Linked DNA regions of Homo sapiens: all the other regions are reported to be linked to region 1. Evidence: microRNA targets listed by miRTarBase, many of them from high-throughput screens and not tested one by one. Region 1 holds a microRNA gene; each other region holds the end of a gene's coding sequence. Distances are from middle to middle.
Evidence for each region. Region 1 holds the annotated microRNA hsa-miR-6079 (UUGGAAGCUUGGACCAACUAGCUG, at 2,732-2,755, opposite strand). A microRNA usually pairs through its seed, bases 2 to 8, with sites in the 3' UTR of a target mRNA and lowers its output. Matches are read on the target gene's strand: a 7mer-m8 pairs with bases 2 to 8, a 7mer-A1 pairs with bases 2 to 7 and ends in A, and an 8mer does both.

Region 2: the mRNA of EPHX4 is a reported target of hsa-miR-6079. The part of its 3' UTR that is shown has no 7-base or 8-base seed match.
Region 3: the mRNA of XPO4 is a reported target of hsa-miR-6079. Seed matches in the 3' UTR shown: 7mer-m8 at 2,337-2,343.
Region 4: miRTarBase lists CORO1C as a target of hsa-miR-6079. Seed matches in the 3' UTR shown: 7mer-m8 at 2,576-2,582.
Region 5: the mRNA of UBXN2B is a reported target of hsa-miR-6079. Seed matches in the 3' UTR shown: 7mer-A1 at 1,017-1,023.

What each region holds. Positions count from the first base shown.
Region 1 is chr1:43,837,412-43,841,411 of GRCh38, reverse strand. MIR6079 (microRNA 6079) reads right to left here and starts at 2,790; the gene lies at 2,729-2,790. ST3GAL3 (ST3 beta-galactoside alpha-2,3-sialyltransferase 3) reads right to left here. Exons shown (of 12, transcript NM_006279.5): 5 at 3,101-3,193. RefSeq lists an enhancer at 1-730.
Region 2 is chr1:92,062,972-92,067,121 of GRCh38, reverse strand. EPHX4 (epoxide hydrolase 4) reads right to left here. Exons shown (of 7, transcript NM_173567.5): 7 at 3,584-4,067. The coding sequence ends at 3,836. It also overlaps the pseudogene LPCAT2BP. Among named protein-coding and RNA genes, the nearest start is that of SETSIP, 10 kb to the left of the region's middle.
Region 3 is chr13:20,780,458-20,784,607 of GRCh38, reverse strand. XPO4 (exportin 4) reads left to right here. Exons shown (of 23, transcript NM_022459.5): 23 at 689-4,150. The coding sequence ends at 886. Among named protein-coding and RNA genes, the nearest start is that of EEF1AKMT1, 8.6 kb to the right of the region's middle.
Region 4 is chr12:108,643,572-108,647,721 of GRCh38, reverse strand. CORO1C (coronin 1C) reads left to right here. Exons shown (of 11, transcript NM_014325.4): 11 at 200-2,613. The coding sequence ends at 319. It overlaps LOC105369968 (a long non-coding RNA gene), which reads right to left. Exons shown (of 3, transcript XR_007063449.1): 3 at 1,057-4,150. Among named protein-coding and RNA genes, the nearest start is that of MIR4496, 9.8 kb to the right of the region's middle.
Region 5 is chr8:58,446,672-58,450,821 of GRCh38, forward strand. UBXN2B (UBX domain protein 2B) reads left to right here. Exons shown (of 8, transcript NM_001077619.2): 8 at 718-4,150. The coding sequence ends at 880. Among named protein-coding and RNA genes, the nearest start is that of UBXN2B, 37 kb to the left of the region's middle.

The DNA of each region.
Region 1 (4,000 bases):
TTCCACCTAGATTTCAGAGGATGTATGGAAAAGCTTGGCTTCCCAAGCAAAAGCCTGCTGCAGGAGTGGAGCCCTCACAGAAAACCTCTACTAGGGCAGTGTGGAGGGGAAACATGGGATTGGAGCCTTCACACAGGGTCCCCACTGGGACACTGCCTTGTGGAGCTGTGAGAAGGGGGCCACCATCCTCTAGTCCCCAGAATGGTAGATCCACCAGCAGTTTACACCCTGCACCTGAAAAAGCCTCAGGCACTCAACGCCAGCCCATGAGAGCAGCCACAGGGGCTGCACCCTGCAAAGCCACAGGGGCGGAGCTGCCCAAGATCTTGGGGGCCCACTTCTTGCACCAGTGTGCCCTGAATGTGGGGCACAGAGTCAAAAGAGATAATTTTGGAGCTTTAAGATTTAATGACTGCCTTGCTGGGTTTCAAACTTGCATGGGGCGTATAGCCCCTTTCTTATGGCTGATTACCCCTTTTTGGAATGGGATGTTTACCCAATGCCTATACCCCCATTGTATCTCGAAAGTAAGCAACTTGTTTTGATTTTACAGTCTCATAGGTGAAAGGAACTCATTTCCAGATAAGAATTTAGATTTGGGACTTAGTATCAGGGGACCTGCCCTGATAATCACGTAGGTTCTTTTCTATTTTTCCTAAGCGTCGGCCAGCTTGAGAAATAAAGGGACGGAGTACAAAAGAGAGAAATTTTAAAGCTGGGCATCCGGGGGAGACATCACACGTTGGTAGGATCCGTGATGCCCCACAAGCCACAAAAACCAGCAAGTTTTTATTAGGGATTTTCAAAAGGGGAGGGAGTGTGCAAATAGGTGTGGGTGACAGACATCAGGTACTTAACAGGGTAATAGAATATCACAAGGCAAGTGGAAGCAGGGCGAGATCACAGGACCACAGTAGGACTTTTGAGTTAATGCTAGAATGAGTTAAGATTTCGCAGGGACTATTGAGAAGGGATGACTGTATGTTGAAATGTGAGAAGGACATAAGATTTGTGGAGGCCAGGGACAAAATGATACAGTTTGAATATTTGTCCCTGCCCAAATCTGATGTTGAAAGGTAATCCCCAGACAGGCTCAGTGGCTCAAACTTGTAATCCCAGCACTTTGGGAGGCCAAGGTGGGTGGATCGCTTGAGCCCAGGAATTTGAGACCAGCCTGGGCAACATGGCAAAACCCCACCTCTACCAGAAATACAAAAATTAGCCACGTGTGGTTGCATGCGCCTGGAGTCCCAACTACTTGGGAGGCTGAGGTGGCTAATTGCTTGAGCCCGGAGGTCAAGGCTGCAGTGAGCCAAGATCGCACCACTGCACTCCAGCCTGGGCAACACCGCAAGACCCTGTCTCAAAAAAAAAAAAAAAAGGAAGGGAAAAAAATGTAATCTCCAATGGGGCCTGGTGGTAGGTGACTGGATCATGGCGGTGGTCTCTCATGAATGACTTAGCACCATCCCCCTGGTGCTGTTCTTGTGAAAATGAGTGAATTCTTGTGAGATCTGGTTGTTTAAAAGTGCGTAGCACTTCCTCTCTTTCTCTCTCCTTCACTCACTTGCTCCTGCTTTTGCCATATGACGTGCCTGCTCCCCCTTTGCTTTCTGGCATGATTTTAAGTTTCCTGAGGCCTTCCTAGAAGTGAAGCAGGTGCCAGCACCATACTTCCTGTAAAGCCTGATGAACCATAAGCCAATTAAACCTCTTTTCTTTACAATTTGCCCAGTCTCAGATGTTTTTTCATAGACATGCAAGAACGGCCTAATACACAGTACAGAATATTAAATACAGTTATGTTCCCACTTTTGGTAATATTGGCTGTCTCTGGGGAAGGAGTCTGGAGTGGCAGTATATAACCTTTTGTACTGTTTGAGGTTTTTTTGTTTTGTTTTGTTTCCACATGCCTGTATTACTTTCAATTAGAAAAAGCAAACGAAACCTATATACTGGTAAAGGAAAACTCACAAGTGTCTGGGCTAAGGACTGAGTCGTATAGGCTTGCAAAAACCTGTGTTAAGAATACAGAACACAAAAAGCCAGACACAGGGGCACTCAATAAATAGCTGGAGGAAGCAAAATATTTGGAATCAATTCAGAAGGCAGACCCTGGACAAAGAGATCTCTATCTGAGCACCAGATACTCAGCCAGCATAGCCCTTGCTTTACACAAGGAGCTAAGCTGAGACTGCTCACGTTAGAAAAGAAAGGGAGCATAAAAACCAAATATACCGGAGTCACTTTGGGGCGAGCTGTTTCTCAGCATTCCTTTGCAAGCACATTACGTGTCCTAACCTCAGCCTTCTAAGGGATGGGAGGCAAGTCCTTCCCCCAGTGAGCAGAGCCCACCCCTAGCACTCCTCTGGTGGTCCAAGTGCCCAGACAATCCTAGGCAGCCTTTCCTTCAGCCCCTCCAAATCAGAAGGAACGAAATGACCCTGACAGTCTCACTGCACTCCAAAGACAATCTCAGCACTTCAGCTCCTTTTCCACACCAAGGCTTCAGAAAAGAAAACCAAAAAGGAGAAGGTGGATCAGTAAGCAAGACCCCTTAGCAGCATTCGGTAAAAGGAACTCCCTGGGTTATGCACAGATTCTTTCAGGTGCCAAAGAAGTCAGCAGCTCCAGAATGCAAAATGGACAGAGAAGGAAAGTGCTAAAACTCAAGACAGCCTCAGAAATTTCTCTTTGTTCCCTGCTTTATTTGGATATGCCTCCCTGAAGCCAGCTAGTTGGTCCAAGCTTCCAAAAAAGTTTCTTTGGCCACTGATACTAGGTCTAGGAGCTTCTGTGCTTGGCAGCCTTCTCTGGCTGCCTCTGGATACCTGGCTTGCATGCGGCAACCATGTAGGTTATCCTTCTGCAGAAACAGGCTGTGCCACAAGGTGCAAGCTCCAGAGGCAGGATGGGAGTAAGGCAAAGCAACGGCATGGAGTAGGACTGGAGTAGGAACCAACTTAAAGGCAGAGTCCTTTCCAGGAACCCATGGTTTCCAGAGCATAGGAGAACATGACTGGCTGTGAGAGGCAGAGTTTCTGGCTCTTGGACCCCAGACCAGGCTGTCTAGGCAGTGGAGGGAAACAGGAGCACTTACCGGGGGAAGATGGCCGTCATCAAGGCTGAAGCATAGCCAGGCTTGCAAGCTCCCTCTGAAAAGTTTGCGTACTTGGTGGCTAATTCAGCAGGCCTATGGGAAGAGAAGGAAAGTTACAGCTTGCCAGGCACTGAGCACTGAGTGGGTTATTAATTCATAAGGAGCTGTAGGTGTTTAACCCTTTTTTTTTTTTTTTTGAGACGGAGTCTCGTTCTGTTGCCCAGGCTGGAGTGCAGTGGCGCAATCTCGGCTCACTGCAAGCTCCGCCTCCCGGGTTCACGCCATTCTCCTGCCTCAGCCTCCCGAGTGGCTGGGATAAGGTGTTTAAACCTTGAATCAAGTTTCATTCCCTACAATCAGCACTTCAGGCACTTTTCCACATTAAGGCTTTAAGGGTAAAAACAAAACAAATCCCCAACCCTAAAGGAATAGATAGATAAATAAGTCAGGCCCCTGGATGGTATCTGTAAAAGGAACTTAACTGGATTCTCACAGATTTCTTTTTAAGAGACAGGGTTTCATTATGTTGCCCAGGCAGGTCTTAAACTCCTGAGTTCAAGCGATCCTCTCGCCTTGGCCTCCCAAAGTGTTGGGATTACAGGCATTGAGCCACTGTGCCCAGCTCAAACTCATAATTCTTTGCAGGAAGCCTGAAACCAAGGAAACGAGGAGCTCTATCAAGGCTCCAATACCCGGGGGAGTGGTGCTTGGAGTTCATAGAATACAGCTACTCAGGCTTTGATACTCAGAGCCCCTGGCCTTTCCACCTTCCTTGTATGTTCCTACATGGCCAGCCTCATCTGCTTTTATTCTCTCCACTCAGGCTATGATCCATCCAGTGGGAACCATTCCCCAGTAGTGGGAACTGTCCCGAACAGTGACCGAATATAGACACGATAA
Region 2 (4,150 bases), 48 Mb from region 1:
TTTTTTTTCTTCATCATTTGGGATATAAACAGGCATAAACTCAACTTCTACCCTGGTGAAGAGTTGACTGAGTGTCAACATACAGGCCTGTAAGGCTGTGAATCCCTGCCAGGTCCAGATTGCCATGTCCAGGGTGTTTGGGTACCTGAGCAGCACTGGCTACACAGGAACACCTGGACAGAAGGCCCCTGGTTTAAAAGTGACTAGACGGGAGCGATTGATGCACACACCTTCTAGGAAAATCAGAATCTGTGGCCACTTCTTTCCAAATGTCACTCACTTCAGGATTTCATCCTTAGTATTCTTCCTGGAATGGGAGTCTTCTCAAATCACAAGCACCAGCTGTGTTGACAGTAGGAATTTCCCAGCCAATGGGATCTGCACATTTTGACTTGCAGAGACCACTGAGGGTAACCCTGCCACCACACAGGGGATTGAGTCAAAGAAAGTGGACCGTGGTGCTGTAACGAAGATAGGGGCCTTGTCTTGGGTTGCCTTTTTCCCTTTCACTTTAGCCAGGAACCCAAGTAAAAAGAAAGCCACCTGAAGCATGAGCTTGAGTACTGGTTTCACCAGTTTTTTTTCTCCAACTCTTGGCAGGGTTGCAGGATTTGAGCAGGATAGCCAAAGGTGGAAAGCATGGCCACTGGCCAGATGAAGAGGAAGGCGATGCAGGACATTCGTACCCACGAGGATGATGCAGGTCCAGCACCATGCACAGAGGCGTGTCTGCTGAGGATACAAGGACTTGATTAGCTCCTGCGTGATCCCAGACTCCTTCGCCTCCAACTCAGAGTCTGTGGATGCAGAGCCGTGAAACCGACTTAGCAGACCCAGGCTGTGTGTAGCCTGGATTTGGGGGCAGCCTTTGACATGCACCCTTCCCCACATCCAACTGCTTTTTCTGTTTGCACATAATTAGAACTGTTAGAGGAAATTGTAGGTTAATAGAAAATGCTGCATTACCTTTAAAATCAGAAAAATCAAAGATGGTAAATGATGTAACAGGAGAATTTGAATCATATCAACAGCACATTCTTTCTTTCTTTTTTTGCAAACATCTTGCTTTTGACATATGCCTAATAAATTATTTTCACATAGCAATTTCTGATGTTAAATTAGGCATATATTATATACTACTAGGGATATATTAATTTGAATAGATGAATATTATTAATAATTACAACTTTTAATTTAGGTGCCATTACCTGTTTTTATTTACTGTGAGCTGCTTTGGCAGCTAGTAAATCAAATTCACTTACTTGCCCTACCAATAGATTTCTACAGAGATAGTAATAACTGTTTATCCTAAGAGGTTTAACTCAAGATGGCACCCTTGAGGCTTTATATCTGTTACAAGTACTTTTCCATATCTATTAAAAATTAGAGTACATTCATTGTAATAGGCCGGAATTGCCCATGGAATGTTTGATTGATAAATTCTTAAAATTAGTCCACATGAACTTGTCAGCTTCCTAAACTGACATAAGTAGCAACAACAACAAATCTTAAAATCACCTTTGTCAGTAACAGGTTTTTATTAAAATAAGTCAGGATTACTTTACTGTGTCAACACGTCCCATTCTTTCCCTTGTTGCTGCCCTTCTGGAGGGATCAAGAGGGAAGCAACAAGTTGGTATGAACCAGGATTTTTCTATACCTTGTGGCATTTGCAACTCTGACAATGCTCTATAGAATATTCCTATGTTTACTAATGGCTAATTTGAATTCCTTTTCCCTCCCAAAATTAAAAGTCAAATTGTAGGTTCCTGAGAGATATGGCCATCTATTGAAACACACCAGATTACTGCTGAAACAGGAAGAGTGGCGTGGATACCACAAGTCTGCTAAATGGTATCTGGTGTAAGTGGGATCATGGGCTTTACCACCAGATGGCTCTAGGTCAGATCCTAGCTCCAGAACTTACACTATGGGCATTGGCAAAGTTACACGTTAAATCACATTTTTACTATTTATAAATTGGTGATACCTACCTTGCATGTTGTTACGAAGCAATGTGTTGTATAGAGAATTGGATTTTTGTTGTAAATACAACTTGCTGTGATACAGTAATGAGAATTCTTAGGGACATTCTCCTTTGTTCTGTCACGATCAGAACTATGCTTAATGAGGGAAGCAATCCTTTCACCAATTTAGGGCTTATTTGTTCTGTGATGTGATTTGGCAGTGTTACTGGTTGCCTCCCATGTTAAAGGGGAACAACCCAAAAGAATGAGTAGTAGTCCCCTGAGTTGGTATTGTTCTCTATTCTGTAACTCTTTTCAACTCTTACTTATAATGTTCATTTCTACTCTTGAACCTTTATTTAATTTGACTGCATTCTATGTATGCGTCTTTTTTTTTTTTTTTTTTTTTTTTTTTTTTTTTTTTTTTGCTCTTGTTGCCCAGGCTGGAATGCAGTGGTGCAATCTTGGCTCACTGCAACCTCTGCCTCCCAGGTTCAAGCAATTCTCCTGCCTCAGCCTCCCAAGTAGCTGGGATTACAGGCATTTGCCACCATCCCCGGCTAATTTTTGTATTTTTGGTAGAGATGAGGTTTCACCATGTTGGCCAGGCTGGTCTCGAACTCCTGACCTCAGGTGATCCACCCATCTCAGCCTCCCAAAGTGCTGGAATTACAAGCATGAGCCACCACACCCAGCCCTTAAGGCTTCTTATGGGAAAGTTCTATGTTACCACCTTATCTTTCTTTTATATTCCCCACCCCCCCGCAGTGCCTAGCAGTGTGCCAGATATATTATTTATTCATTAAGCAAATGTTTGAGTGCCTACAATATGCCAGGCCCTTAGTCTAGACTTGAATATGTATCAGTTAATAAAACAACAAAAAAATCCCTGCCCTGTGGAGCTTAGATTCTAGTGCATATAAGATGTGTAATATTCAATTCTCGTTGCATTGAATGGGGTAAAAGGATCCTTTCCTTCCTTTTCCCTCTCCCTTTCCCTTTCCGTTCCAACAGGGTCTCACTCCATTGCCCAGGCTGGAGTGCAATGGCCCAATCATGGCTCACTGCAACCTCAAGCTCCTGGACACAAGCGATCTTCTCACCTCAGCCTCATGAGTAGCTGGGACTTCAGGTGTGCACGCCTACGCCTGCCCACTTTTATTTTTTATTTATTTTTGGTAGAGATGAGGTTTTACCATGTTGGCCAGGCTGGTCTCAAACTCCTGGTCTCAAGTGATTCTCCCGCCTTGGCTTCCCACAGTGCTGAGATTACAGGCATGAGCCACCACGCCCAGCCAAGATGTCAGCTTTAAAAAATGGTTTAATGTTCCCAGTATAAATAGTATATGGCCCATTTTAAAAATGCATATTCATTTAGCTATATTTGCCTTCAAACTAATAGATATACTATAAATCCAAAGAGATTCGATAATATAACTTTTTAATGGTTAAAAATAGTAAAAAGAATTTTTGAACAATAGAATGAAAATTTATATTATTTCAGGTTTGCCTTATAATATGGCACAGCTAATCTTTAATATACATTTGTAAAAGGCACCATATGTTAACAGAGTAAAAAAAAGCAAGAAACCAAAATGGAAGCACTTACTCCAAACTTCCTTTTTGTACAAGTGTATATATTTTAAGGCAGATGCTTGTCTGTGCAAAATACACCAGAAGAAAATCAACATTGTATTATATGTTCACATGATCTCAGATTTTTTTCAATACCATTTGTCAGGATATTTATTTATGATAAAGCACATTAAAACAGTTTTTTTCTAATAAAACATAAAGAAGTTGATGAACAATTTTTAAAAATTATTTAGAGATTTCATTACAGACCCTTCATAGAAGATAAAGAAAAGTCAATCTTTTTTTCTTGTTTCTTCTTTTAGAAATGTCCATATCAATTTGTTCACTATGTCAGGTTGGTCTTGCTGAAGCCAATGACTGGCTTCTGACAAAATAGTTAGCCTGAAATAGTTTTTAACATAAATCTTTGTGACTTCAGCCATCTCAACCTCCATGAATGCGTCATTCTCTCCCCACAGTAGTAGTGTTGGAGTGGTCACCATGTGATGTTTGAGAGGCAGGCAGCTATAAAAACAAAATACATGGGCTTGAGATTCACTGTCAAAGTTAAAATGACATTTTCCTATAGTGCCCCAGTAGGTCATACA
Region 3 (4,150 bases), not on the chromosome of region 1:
CCACACCTTCTTCCACTTTCCTTTATAAGGCTTTATAATAGAGTATTAAAAACAGAAAATTTCCCATATTCCTATATTTACTAAAGTCCTCTTCCTGCCCTTTCTCTAAGAGCTGCTGGGCACAGTGCTGGTTTGGAGCTTTCAGAGTGCCCTGCTCCACTTGGAGAAGGCACTGGAATATATTTCTCCGCCCCGTCCTCCCAAAAGACTCCTGCCTGTCCTGTCTTTGTGCACATTGCTGTCCTCAGAACTGGGTGGACCAGATATCTCTATTAACCTCTGGGGAACTATTGCAGACTTAGATTATGTGTCAAACGCAACATAAATAGGAATAATGTGCTTTGAAGAGGCAGCACAACAAAGTTGATTATCACATGGGTCTTGGGGCTAGATTGGTGGACTCTTGCTTGATCTGGGCCATATCACTTCACCTCACTGAGTGTCGAAACCTTCACCTCTGGAATGGGAATAGAAACAGTACCTGTCTCGAAGCATTGTTGTAAATGATAGATGAATTAATCCATGTAAAAGGTTTTCAAACAGTAGTACTTAAATGCTGAATTATTCTAAATGTTAACTCTTAAAAATGTGTCCCTGCCTTTTAGAACCCCACAGTCCAGTAACTGATAAGATCTACTTGTATGATATTCTAAGGAGGATACTTGTGTATACTTTATCTCTTCAATAGGCTGAATATTCTGAACTGGTCGAAACATTACTATCAAGTCAGCAAGACCCAGTTATTTACCAGAGATTAGCAGATGCCTTCAACAAGCTCACTGCAAGCAGCACTCCTCCTACGCTGGATCGGAAGCAGAAGATGGCCTTCTTAAAGAGTTTAGAAGAATTTATGGCAAATGTTGGTGGTCTCCTTTGTGTAAAATAAACAACAGAACTTTATGCTTAATTTAGATCCTTTCTGCAAAGTGCACTGAATTGCTGAAAGTTGACTTGAGTCTTGTCCTATTCCTCAGTTCATTTGGCCATTTTGGATTTTGGAGAGCCTGAAACTTTGATATGTATGTAATACAGTGAAACAGGAGAGGTCAACTTGGCATCAGCTTCTGCTGTTAAGTGTTAGCCACAATCTGTCATATATATGTCTTTTAGATTCTGAATGGTGATTTAAAATTTTCAAAATGAAATTCCATATATGTGCAAACAGATATGGGCACCACGAAATACATATGCAGTGCCTTTTTTCCTTTTAACATAGGTGGCTAGCCAAAGTTTAGAATTTTTGTCATTAAATATGAAATGGATATATGCTAGGCAGTGTTTCTCAAAATCTCCATAGATCGCCTGCATCACTTGAGGAGCTGGTGAAAAGGCAGATTCTTAGGCCCAACTGTAGACCTTCAGAGTCAGAATGTCTGGTTGTTGGGCCCAGGAGTCTTCATGTTAATAAGCTTCTCCCTTTCGTCACCCCAAAAGTTTTGAATCAATGAAAGAGACATTGAAAACTCTTAAGAGGTTTTGTGCTTTCTAGCTTTTCCTCCCTTTGATGATTGGGTTTTATAATTCAGCAGGAAGGGGAAACATCACCAGGGGTTTGTTGGCTTTTTCTTAGCTTGCTTTCTTGCTTGCTTGCTTTCTTGCTTTTCTTGCTTTCTGTCTCTCTCTTTCTTTTCTCTCTCTCTCTCACATCAACCCAGTGCTGCAGGTTTTGTGTAATACAAGTCACTAATCATACTCTGATGCCTGAACTTGAGGAGGAAAATACATGTATATTTTTGTTCCGTAAAAATAACCTTAGGAACTGTAGCCATTTCATTGCCTTAATTTTAAGAGGAAAATACAAAAACAGCTGATTTGTTTTAGTAAGAAACCACGTCTTGATGCTTCAGAGTTGGTTTAGGGTGTTAGCTGCTATGAACCTGTTGCCCCTTTCGATCGTGTATTTATGTAGGTTTATCAGTGAAATGAAAGGCTTGTTTCCGTCTAGTCTAACTTTTTGAGTGTGTTTCTATCCAGCCACATAGCCCATATCTACTCTAAATGGCTTGCTTAAGCAATAATTATTTTAAAGGATGTGAATCACTGATTCACACAGACTATTGCACGTTGGGGCATTAGGGGCAATAATTCTTATCCAGACATGGGAGCCAGTGAATTTAATTTCAGAGATTAAAAATTCACTTTAGATCCTCTAGTTTGATCTCTTAATCAGGATTTTTATACAGCTGCCAGGCTCCCCTAATTCAGTGTGCCAGCTTACAATGTGGAAATGAAAGCTAATTTATACACAGCAGGCATATGAAACTCCACTCATTGCAGTACTTTCACAGCACAGTGACAGGTAGAGGACTCTGGCACAGGTGCACTCATGAAACTCTGCTTCCACCATGTTCCTGACACCTATCTATTAAACCATTCTGCAAATACGGTTTTTCTACCTGATTGCATATAGCATATGTGTCATTACATGTGATGCTGTGCAAAACTTTGTATAATTCTGTGTTATTAACAGTTAACAAAACTGGAGCATCTGAATTACATCCAACCTGTGCATGTGATGTTAGGTAGATGTGAATGCAGGGCCTTGGGCCATAACTTACATTTCTCTCAATTTGATTAGCTTTGAGTCACAATTAAGGGGAAGCAAAAACATCTTGAAAAGACTGCTAGGAAGGAAATTAATATCAGTCATCCAGAAGTACACGTTTCTGTATTTTAAAAAATACTTTGATGCATTTATTTTTAGGTGTTTTTTTTTTCCCCTTAAAAAACTTGAAGTGATATGCAGCAGTAATCTATTTGTTTTGCATTGTTCTTGGTGTTTTGTGTTTCCCAGATCCCTCAAGCTTTCTCAGCTGTTGTGAATTATGTGTATCTGTGTGTGTGCTAAGTACAGTCTCTTTACCAAAGGGCACTGAAACACACAATTGACTGGACAGGTCCACGCGCCATGACAAAACTATAATCAAGTTATTAAAACTAAAGAGGAGTGGGAAAGGAATGCCTTGGTAAGTAAAAAGGCATCTATATTTAATAACTTTTATCCAGATGGCAACATATTTGCAAAATTTGCCCAGATCCTATTACAATACTAAAAATAGAAAATTTCACCTCCATATTCCTGAGGTGTAATTTCATTAGACTAGTTTTAGTTTAAAAAGACCTTCTTCAGATTGGACCAAATAATACTTATAAGATCAGCAGAATGTTGAATATTAGCTCACTGGGGTGGGGAGAAGCCACTACCATTTTTTAGGTGATGGGGATGCCACTGAGTTGCAACGGCTAGACCTTTTCAGGGTGGTTGTGTCCATGTTTGCCTGATTGGATGCTTATTCACTTTGTGTTTTCTTTTGTTTTATTTTGTCCAATTTTGTCTTTAGCTGTGTTTATTAACTTCTCCGGTCTTGTTTTGTTTTAATGCTCTTGGCCCAGTGGGTGTCAAGAACACTGGCTTAATTCAAGTCAGTTGATTTTTTTTCTATTAAAACTGTTGTTAAAATATTTTTTAAAACAAAAACATTATTTGTGCCCTCTTTTATATATGTCAAAGGGACACTGTCAAGTATTTCATTTTTAGATTTTTGTTTTATAAAATTTCTGTTGTTCATATAGTATCCTTTAACCTCTAGTTTTCCATACATCCTTTGTTTGTTTCTCATTTTATTTTCCTTGACCCATTTATTTCCCAAGGCACAATCACTAAAGACTTTGTACTTTCACAGTCTGTTAATGTGGTAGCACCTGTAACTGTGTTCTTGTTCTGTTAAAAGGATTGATTTGCTTTTATAGTCCTTGTGCTGGATGAGTGGCTGCCTCAGTAGCAAAACTACCTGACAGTATTTGACAGTGTCCTTTCCAGCACCATTATTTGGGTCTTTCAGGGTGGCCATCTCTGTTAGAAGACAGTAGCATGTTAACATCACTGCATTGAGTTTTTGTCTGGTGTAAAGTATGACTTTTAATGTAAACAAACTGCAGGTTTTTTTCAAACTAATTTTAAGAATTTAGTCTTATTTCGTTGTAAACTGTGTATCTAATTATATTACATTACTCTGTTCAGATGGGATGGTTACTACCACTTGTCCATGATTTTCATTTGAAAAGCAAGTATCTATATCATTTCCCCCCAGTCAGCATTATTTAACACTCCCCTTAACTGTCTTTGAACTTTCTCTTTTAACAAAAATGT
Region 4 (4,150 bases), not on the chromosome of region 1:
GGATCTCAGATAGATCGGCCAGTGCTCATTGCATTCAAAGCCCCAGACATAGTAGGGCTTTGACTTCTCTTTTCAACTTGGTGACTATGGCTTGCCGTTTGCAAAATAGAAAACTACATTTTATATCTTACAAGTTTTGAACAGTGTTGAACTTTGTTTACTGCATTTTAATCACTGCCTCCTTTTTTTGTTTTCTTAGCAAAATGAAGCCAAGTTGGATGAGATTTTAAAAGAGATCAAATCTATAAAAGACACAATCTGCAATCAAGATGAGCGTATTTCCAAGTTAGAACAGCAGATGGCAAAGATAGCAGCCTGAAGGTCCCACCCCCACCCCTACAGAAAAAATGGGAGCAAGAACTTGTGCTTGGGAGCTGGTTATTGGTGTGGTCCTAGGGAGGGCGGAAAGGGAGGCACTGCCATTTGGAGACATTCCATTTCAGATTTGTCAACCAGCGATAGGCCACATTCCAGTAAGAACTCAATTTGTCTCCCAAATTTGCAGAAACAAAACGTGATTTAAAAGCTGAGCTTTTTATCAGAAAGCTTTTTTGATGTTTTAAGTGTTATGTGACTTGTTGAACTTTTTAAAAAGTGCTACTTTTAAAATCCCAGATACTCTGAATTTTAGAAAACAAACTAATTCTGATTGTGTCGTGCCCAAGTACCCTTTTTTTTTTAATGAATAGGGACCAATGCCACATTGCTTTTTATATTTCTTTCTTTTTTAATGTTGCCAAAACCAAAAGTAGCTTTGTTTTCCTTTGTATTTTGCTACTTTGCAGTATTTGTGTGTGTGGTTTTTTTTCCTTAATTTGAAAGGGACAGCACTGTGTATGTTTATAAACTAAATGAAGATAAGATATTATTTTGTATAAACATTCATCTGAGAACAATCAAAGCAGTAGCCACATGGTGCTGGCTCCTTTGCAGCACAAACCTGGTCATTTTGATGACTGTACAACAGGAAGACTTGAAAAATCACGTGGATTCATATTACCACCGCTCTCATTTCATGGAGTCTTCTGATCAAAAAAGCTCACGTCGTATTTCTTCTTTTCCTTTCTCTTTTCTAGAAATTGGGTGTTTGTACCAGAATGGAATTTTGCTTCTCGGTTATCCTGTGCTTCAGATGATTATAATCTAACCCAAACTAGCATGTGTTTCTGCAGTTTGTTACACACCTAGGATCATATTGCATTCATCACTTTAAACATCATGTTTCAGGTTTTGGTCAATACTTGACAAGGGTGCCCAGGACAGGAAGACGTGTACTGCTGAGTGTTCCTTCTTGCCCTTTTCAGCAGCTTGCCCAGCTCTTGAGTACAGTGGTGGGGACTAAAAATGTGGGCATGTGGAGAGGGGTATTTGCCCTGGGTGATCCTGTTTCCCTGTGCTGTCCCCATGCTGTGTTGGAGGAGGAAGTGGCTCTCCTTCCACCAACAAAGCTCCTGCTCTACCCTCTTCCTCACATGTGCTGCGACCTCTCTCAGGGCTCCCCCAGCCATTCCTTCTTTCCTTCCTGCCTTTTAGCTCTAACCACATTAAGCTAAGACAAGGCCAGAGGGTGCGATTGAATGAGTATTGAGACTGAGGAGAATGATAGAGAGTGAAGCAGAAACAGGAGCACAGACCTCTGCTGTAGCTTTAATGCATACAAACATGTCCCTCCGCACAACTAACCTGCCCTGCCTCTCCATCTCTCACCAAGGCTGCGTCAAAGCACAGAGGCTCCCCGGACTCGGAGGGGGCCAGAGACTGAGCTCTGGTCACCTGTTCATTCCTCGGTTAGCTGGAACTTTGCCCCGTTTCCAGTTTCTTATAGTGCATGCTTGGGAAACAAGATTTAAGGAGCCTCTGTTTTGGAAGGGCTGTCTGTGATTGAACGTGAAATGTGTAGTGCCATTGGGACCACGAAGGGAATTCTTGCACATGCTCGTGCTGGTGTGGGCATGGGACTGGCTGGAAACGTCTGTATGCAGGGAGCCAGGGTGAGGGCAGAGTGTGGTGACAGCCGAACTTGGAGTAATGTCCGTGTAGAAAAAGGACCATGTTCTTATCCAGCCAATACTGGGAGTGCTGTCTCCACAATTTCAGGGCATCTGAATGTTTGATGTGGTTTTGTGTGTGTGTATGTATGTGTTTAATATTGAAGTGGATCATGAGATGTAAAGAAAACAATAATGGCAATGACTTATATTCAAATCTGTATTTGTTTCTTTATCAATGTAATCTGCTGAGGACCTTTTGTCTAAGATTCAGTAGTGTTTTAAGGTTCTGATATCGAATTAATGAAGTAAAGTTGTTGATGGTGGTGAAACACCGTAGGGCATGTGGTTCAAAGAGAAGCAGGAGGGCAAGGGAAAGTTACCCTGATCTTAGTTTGTAGCTTATGACTTATTTAATGAATGGATGCCCAGCCAAGCTCAGAGTAGGCGCCCAAAGCATTGTGGATTATTTTCCTGTTTTGTCTTTTTTTTTTTTTTTTTTTAAGCCATGACATCCCAGAAGAGGACAGTGAATTACTCCTAGGTCGGCTCTTATAGAGTGGCCATAGTGTTCTGTCAAAACACTTGCTTCCATTTTCAGAGATAAAAATCATTGATTACAAAATGGTGTTTGTGTTTATTTCACGCCTTGGCTGTCTGTGAGGCAGCCCCCACCTCTCTGCCTGACATAGCTTCTCTGACTTTGGTGGACGAGCACGGTGCCATACTCCTCTCCGGGGGTAAGTACAGGGGAAGCGCGTGTGGGTGGCTCAGTTCAAGTACAAGTGAGGTCTCCAAGCCAGTCAAGCACTGTGTTTTGGCTTCCAGCAGACCTGAGCCTTTGGATCCTGCCTCAGACCTTTGCCAGCGGTGTGTCCTGGGATGGGGTTCCTAATCCTTCTGAGTCCCTTTTCTTGAAAGGAGGATGATAATTCCATGTAGTTCAGATGAGAGGAATACCTGTGTGGCCACACAAACAACCCTCGCTGCATGGCCGCTACTGTTACTATTATGAGTTGATTTTCTGACAGAGTCTTTGAAAGCACTTTTTCTTCAATAGAAGCAAAATTCTCTTGGCTCAGCTGTGACTTTTATTCCAGCAGGCTTCCAGGGTCAGTTGAATTGCAGGGCTTCCCTTTCGCACTATGACATTGTCTCGTGACATTTCAGTGATTGTAGCAAAGAATTTCCCACTGTTTGCTTTTTCTGAATATGATGAATGGTCAGCATAAAGCTCCCCTTCCTCAAATGCCTTATCTTAAAGTTGCTTTAGTCTATGAGAAGAATGGCTGCCATGTTCTTGGTCCACTCGTGGCTGCAGGAAGTAGAAGTTGGCAGGGCTCTCTGTAGACCCGAGGTGCCCGCAGTCAGCCAGGAGACGCGTGGTGGTCTGTTTATGACTAACTTGTTTTCTCACTCGGGCCACCTTGATTCTTTGCCAGAAGACCTGAAGGTCAGCATGCTGGCCCCAGACAGCCAGCCAGACCTCGTCTGGGGGGAACTTCCATTTTTTTTTTCAAGGTCACTTCCCTTGCTGTACTTGGTATTCTACACCCAGAAAAACTCTTTGTTGGCTCTTAAGAATCTGTTAACTCTAAGTGGGCCCTTCTCTTTCTGCGGGCACATTAAGTATCCCAGTGCTGGCAGTGGGTCACGGACATGAGTCACCGTCAAGGGCACGCCTTTCCTGCTTCAGACGGGCAACCCTTGATGTCCAGGCCGGACAGTGCCCTTTGTGCTCTTTTATTCGTTAAAAAGAAGTCCCTTGCCAAAGAATGTAGGGGTGGCAGTCCTCTCCTGCGAAAAGCGGGTATGTGCGGGGTGGACAGCCTTTCCAGAGGGCAGTCTGGCAAGTGGATCAAAAGCCTTAAAGGTTTTCTTAAGACCCAAGATTCTCACCTTTGGAAATTTTGTCCCAGGGAACTAGTGGGAGGTATATTCAGGAATTAGAAGAGTAAAATCAACTCTGCAGAAGGGGGTCAGTAAGTTACTTGTCATATCCATATGTTATAATTCTGTTCCATTATTTAAAGTCATTTAAAAAGAGTATTGAATAGGAAACATTAAAAAAATAGTAAAATAAAGTCAATTCCAACTTGGGTTTAAAATATATACCTACCTAGGTTGAAACATGAAAGTATATTATTTCTGGGTGCTGGATG
Region 5 (4,150 bases), not on the chromosome of region 1:
CACATTTCATAGTTTTAGACTCACCTTGCCACAGGCCAATCATAGTTACCTTTTTCTGGGTCATATGCTGCTAACACATTTTATACTCCGAAAAAAGTACAACCTGCATTTTTTTTTTTTTTTTTTTTTTTTTTTTTTTTTTTTGAGACAGAGTCTTACTCTGTCTCCCAGGCTGGAGTGCAGTGGCGGAATCTCAGCCCACTACAAACTCCGCCTTCCAGATTCAAGCAATTCTCATGCTCAGCCTCTTGAGTAGCTGGGATTACAGACAGCCACCACCATGCCCAGCTAATTTTTTCTGGTTTTAGTAGAGACGGGGTTTTCACCGTGTTAGCCAGGCTAATCTTGAACTCCTGGCCTCAAGTGATCTGCCCACCTCTGCCTCCCAAAGTGCTGGAATTACAGGCGTAAGCCACCGTGCCCAGCTGGACCTGCACTTTTAAAATAACAACATTAGTACACTTACTTTATTCATAACTTACCTGAAGATTGTTTCCATTTTACAGGAAAAGTAAATGTTAAGTACACACTAAAGTTACTTTACATTTTAACTGAAGCCTAAGATAAATCCTTCAATTGAAATACTATATATTAAAGAAAGTTACAACACCTTTATATAAAGATTAAAATTTTGTGATTTTTATTATGATTCAGTTTTAAGTTTACATGAAAATATGATTTTTTATATTACAAATTATTTTTGTCTTATTTCTTCAGGATCCTGGATGTCCGGAACTTTATTGTACAGTCTCGTCCTGAATTTGCGGCTCTTGACTTTATTCTTGTGACTTCATTTCCGAATAAAGAGCTAACAGATGAAAGCCTGACACTGCTAGAAGCAGATATTCTTAACACTGTGTTACTCCAGCAACTAAAATAATATTGTTCCTGTCCATGCAGTAGCATGTGGGAATAGATGATGTGCCGTATTAATAAGGACAATACTTCAGCATTAAAAACAGCCAAATTATTTTTATTATTTTTACAGATAAATTTTGGTTTTATTGTTATTCTGTCTTCCAATCTGAATATAGACAAATTTGGATTAGGAATAGACCTTGAGATAAGTATGTTTGAGTTTTTAGTTGAAGGACTGGCTTATGTTGATAGTTTTTGGATTTCTAGGCAAATGAGTTGTTACATGCTTAGTGTTAATGTAACAACATTTGTTTGCAGAGAAAAATGAACAAAACCCCTTTTTGATAAATGCATTTGGTAAAATTTGCACTAAAGTTTCTTGATGCAGCATTGACCAACAGCCATTAAGAAATCTTTTGATCAAATAAGTTGAAAATTTGTCTATAATATATACTGAAACGTGTCTTTTGATTTTGAAATTGTTTGATCATACAATAATTATTTCTCCTATTAAGATTTTACACATCCTTTTTACTTACTGATTTAGATATATTACTAGTATCAGAAACTACAGTTTTGCCTTGTATTTTACAGAATTATGACTGTTGTGAACTTAAACAGAAACACATAAAGGTCAGCAATTCTTTTTTTTTTTTTTTTTGATATGGAGTTTTGCTCTTGTTGCCCAGGCTGGAGTGCAATGGCATAATTTCTGCTCACCGCAACCTCCGCCTCCCAGGTTCAAAAGATTCTCCTGCCTTAGCCTCCCAAGTAGCTGGGATTACAGGCATGCGCCACCATGCCTGGCTAATTTTTGTACTTTTGCTAGAGACAGCGTTTCTCTGTGTTGATCAGGCTGGTCTCGAACTCCGAACCTCAGGTGATCCACCCACCTCAGCCTCCCAAAGTGCTGGGATTACAGGCATGAGCCACCACGCCCAGCCTAAAGGTCAGCAGTTCTTAAGAAGATATGGTAAACAGCAACAATATTTTAAAATCAAGTAATTACAGTTCCTCCCAGAGCTTGCGTTGATCACATTCATTTATTCATTCAACACATTTTTCTAGGAAACTCACTGTATACACTAAACACTATTCTGTGTGCTCAACCTAGAATGTCTTCTCCAGAACAAGACTAGTGTAGAAATACAGGAATGTAAATTCTGTCAGACGGACTAGATCTAAAGAATTACCAGCATAAATGTTTGCATTTCTGCTGAAGCCAGAAGCTTTTCCTTCTTCCTAGACACCATTTCATCCTTAATTATTACTTCTGGTTAGTTTTCCATTGCCACCATAACAAGTTACAAAATGTGGCTTAAAATAGCACAAATTTATTATCTTCACAATTCTGTAGGTTAGGAGTCCAGGTTAAGAGTTTCGCGGTGCCAAGATCAATTTGTTGGCAGGGTTGCATTCTGTTAGGAGGCTCTACAGGAGAATCATTTCCTTGTCATTCCACCTTCTACAGGACATCCTCATTCCTTGGCTTGTGACCTCCTTCTTCCATCTTAAAAACCAGTGCTGTTTCATCTCTATGACCCTTCTGTTACCACATCTCTCTGACACCAGTGTGGAGAGGTTCTCTGCAGGACTCATGATTAAATGAGGCCCACCGGATATCCAATCTAGGCTTATCTCCTTGTCTTGAAATCCATAGTAACCTTAATTACATCTGCAAAATCTCTTTTACCATCTAAGGTTACATACAGGTTTGGAGATTAGGACATTAACATTTTACATGGAACATTATTCTTGCCTACTACAGTTCCCACCCACCCCCCGCTCCACTCCTGTGTTAAAGATTCAGATTCATCACAAATAAATTTACATCACTCATAGGTGCTCAAAAGTCACAATCCATTATTACAGCATCAACTCTAAATCCAAAATCTTATCTGAGTCTCACCAACTCAAAAGTCTCAAATCTCACATTGAAGCCATCTAAATTAAGTTTGGGAGAGGATCTGTGTGTGATTTCTGGGACATAATTCCAACTGTGCACTTGTGAACCTAGAAAACAAGTTATCTGTTCCCAAGTATGATGGCATGACAGGCAGACAATAATAGTTACACACGTTCCTGTTCAAAAAGCAGAAACAGATGGAAAAAGGAGCCATCAGCACCAATCAATTTACAAAACCAGCGAGGCACCCTTCTTTAAGTTTCAAGGCCTGGGAGTAATCTTCAGCTCACTGCTGTTCTCTGGGCTTGTTGACTGTCTCAGAGTCATCTTTACTTTTTCACAAAAGGTAGCACACGTTTGCAGCTGAGTATCAACTTATCAGTTTGTTCTTCTTTTATATTCTCTAAAGCTTTCTGTTAAAAATGGTGGTGCTTCTGCTGCTATAACGTTGTCAAGAAACTTGTGGGTCTTTTACATATGTCACAGGGATGCACTCATTTAGATAGGAGGCTCCTCACGTATCTTTCCTGGAAAATCCTGTCTCTGTTTTTGGCTTTTTCTGAAATAGCTGAGAGGATCTATGATTCACACCCTTAATATCTTCAAAGAGTCTTGTGTGTGACCTGATATTCAGACCTTTTGATGTTTCTGAAGTATTAGCAAAAGGTTATACAGCCATATCTTCATCACTTTCTCTAGAGTAAAGGCTGTCCTGACGGTGAATCTTAGTTTTAGTGGCTTTTGCCATTTGAATAGGCCGCGAATTTCCCAAATCATCAAGTCCTGGTTTCTTTATATTTAACAGGTCTTCCCTCAATCTACCTCTTTCCACATTTTACTATAATCAGCAAGAAGACAGCAGGCTGTACCTTCCACAGCTTGCTTGGAAATATCCTCAGCTAAATATTGAAGTCATCACTTAAAAGTTCTGCTTTACACATAACGGCAGGACACAACTCAGCTTAGCTTTTCGCCACTATGTAACAAGGACTCCTTTCCTCCACTTCTCCAGTAACATATTCCTCATTTTTTACCAACAGTCTATTCATGATGATTTAGATATTCTATGGCAATCGAGGTATTCTCTATTATGCTCCTTTCTTCAAGGCCGCCCTAGCATTAACATTCCATATTTCTACTAACAGTCTGTTTAAGGCAGTTTAGCTTCTTTTCTGGCATGCTCCTCAGAATTCTTCCAGCCTCCACCTACTGCCCAATTCCAGAGCCACTTTTCTACTTTTAGGTATTTGTTACAGCAGCACCTCAAGTACCTAGAAAACTCTTTTATGCCTGCTTCTCTGCCAGATGACTTGAATATGGTACTAGATTTGGAATTCACCTTTCTCCAGGGTCACTGTTTATTTCAAAGAGGTGAATTTACCTGTG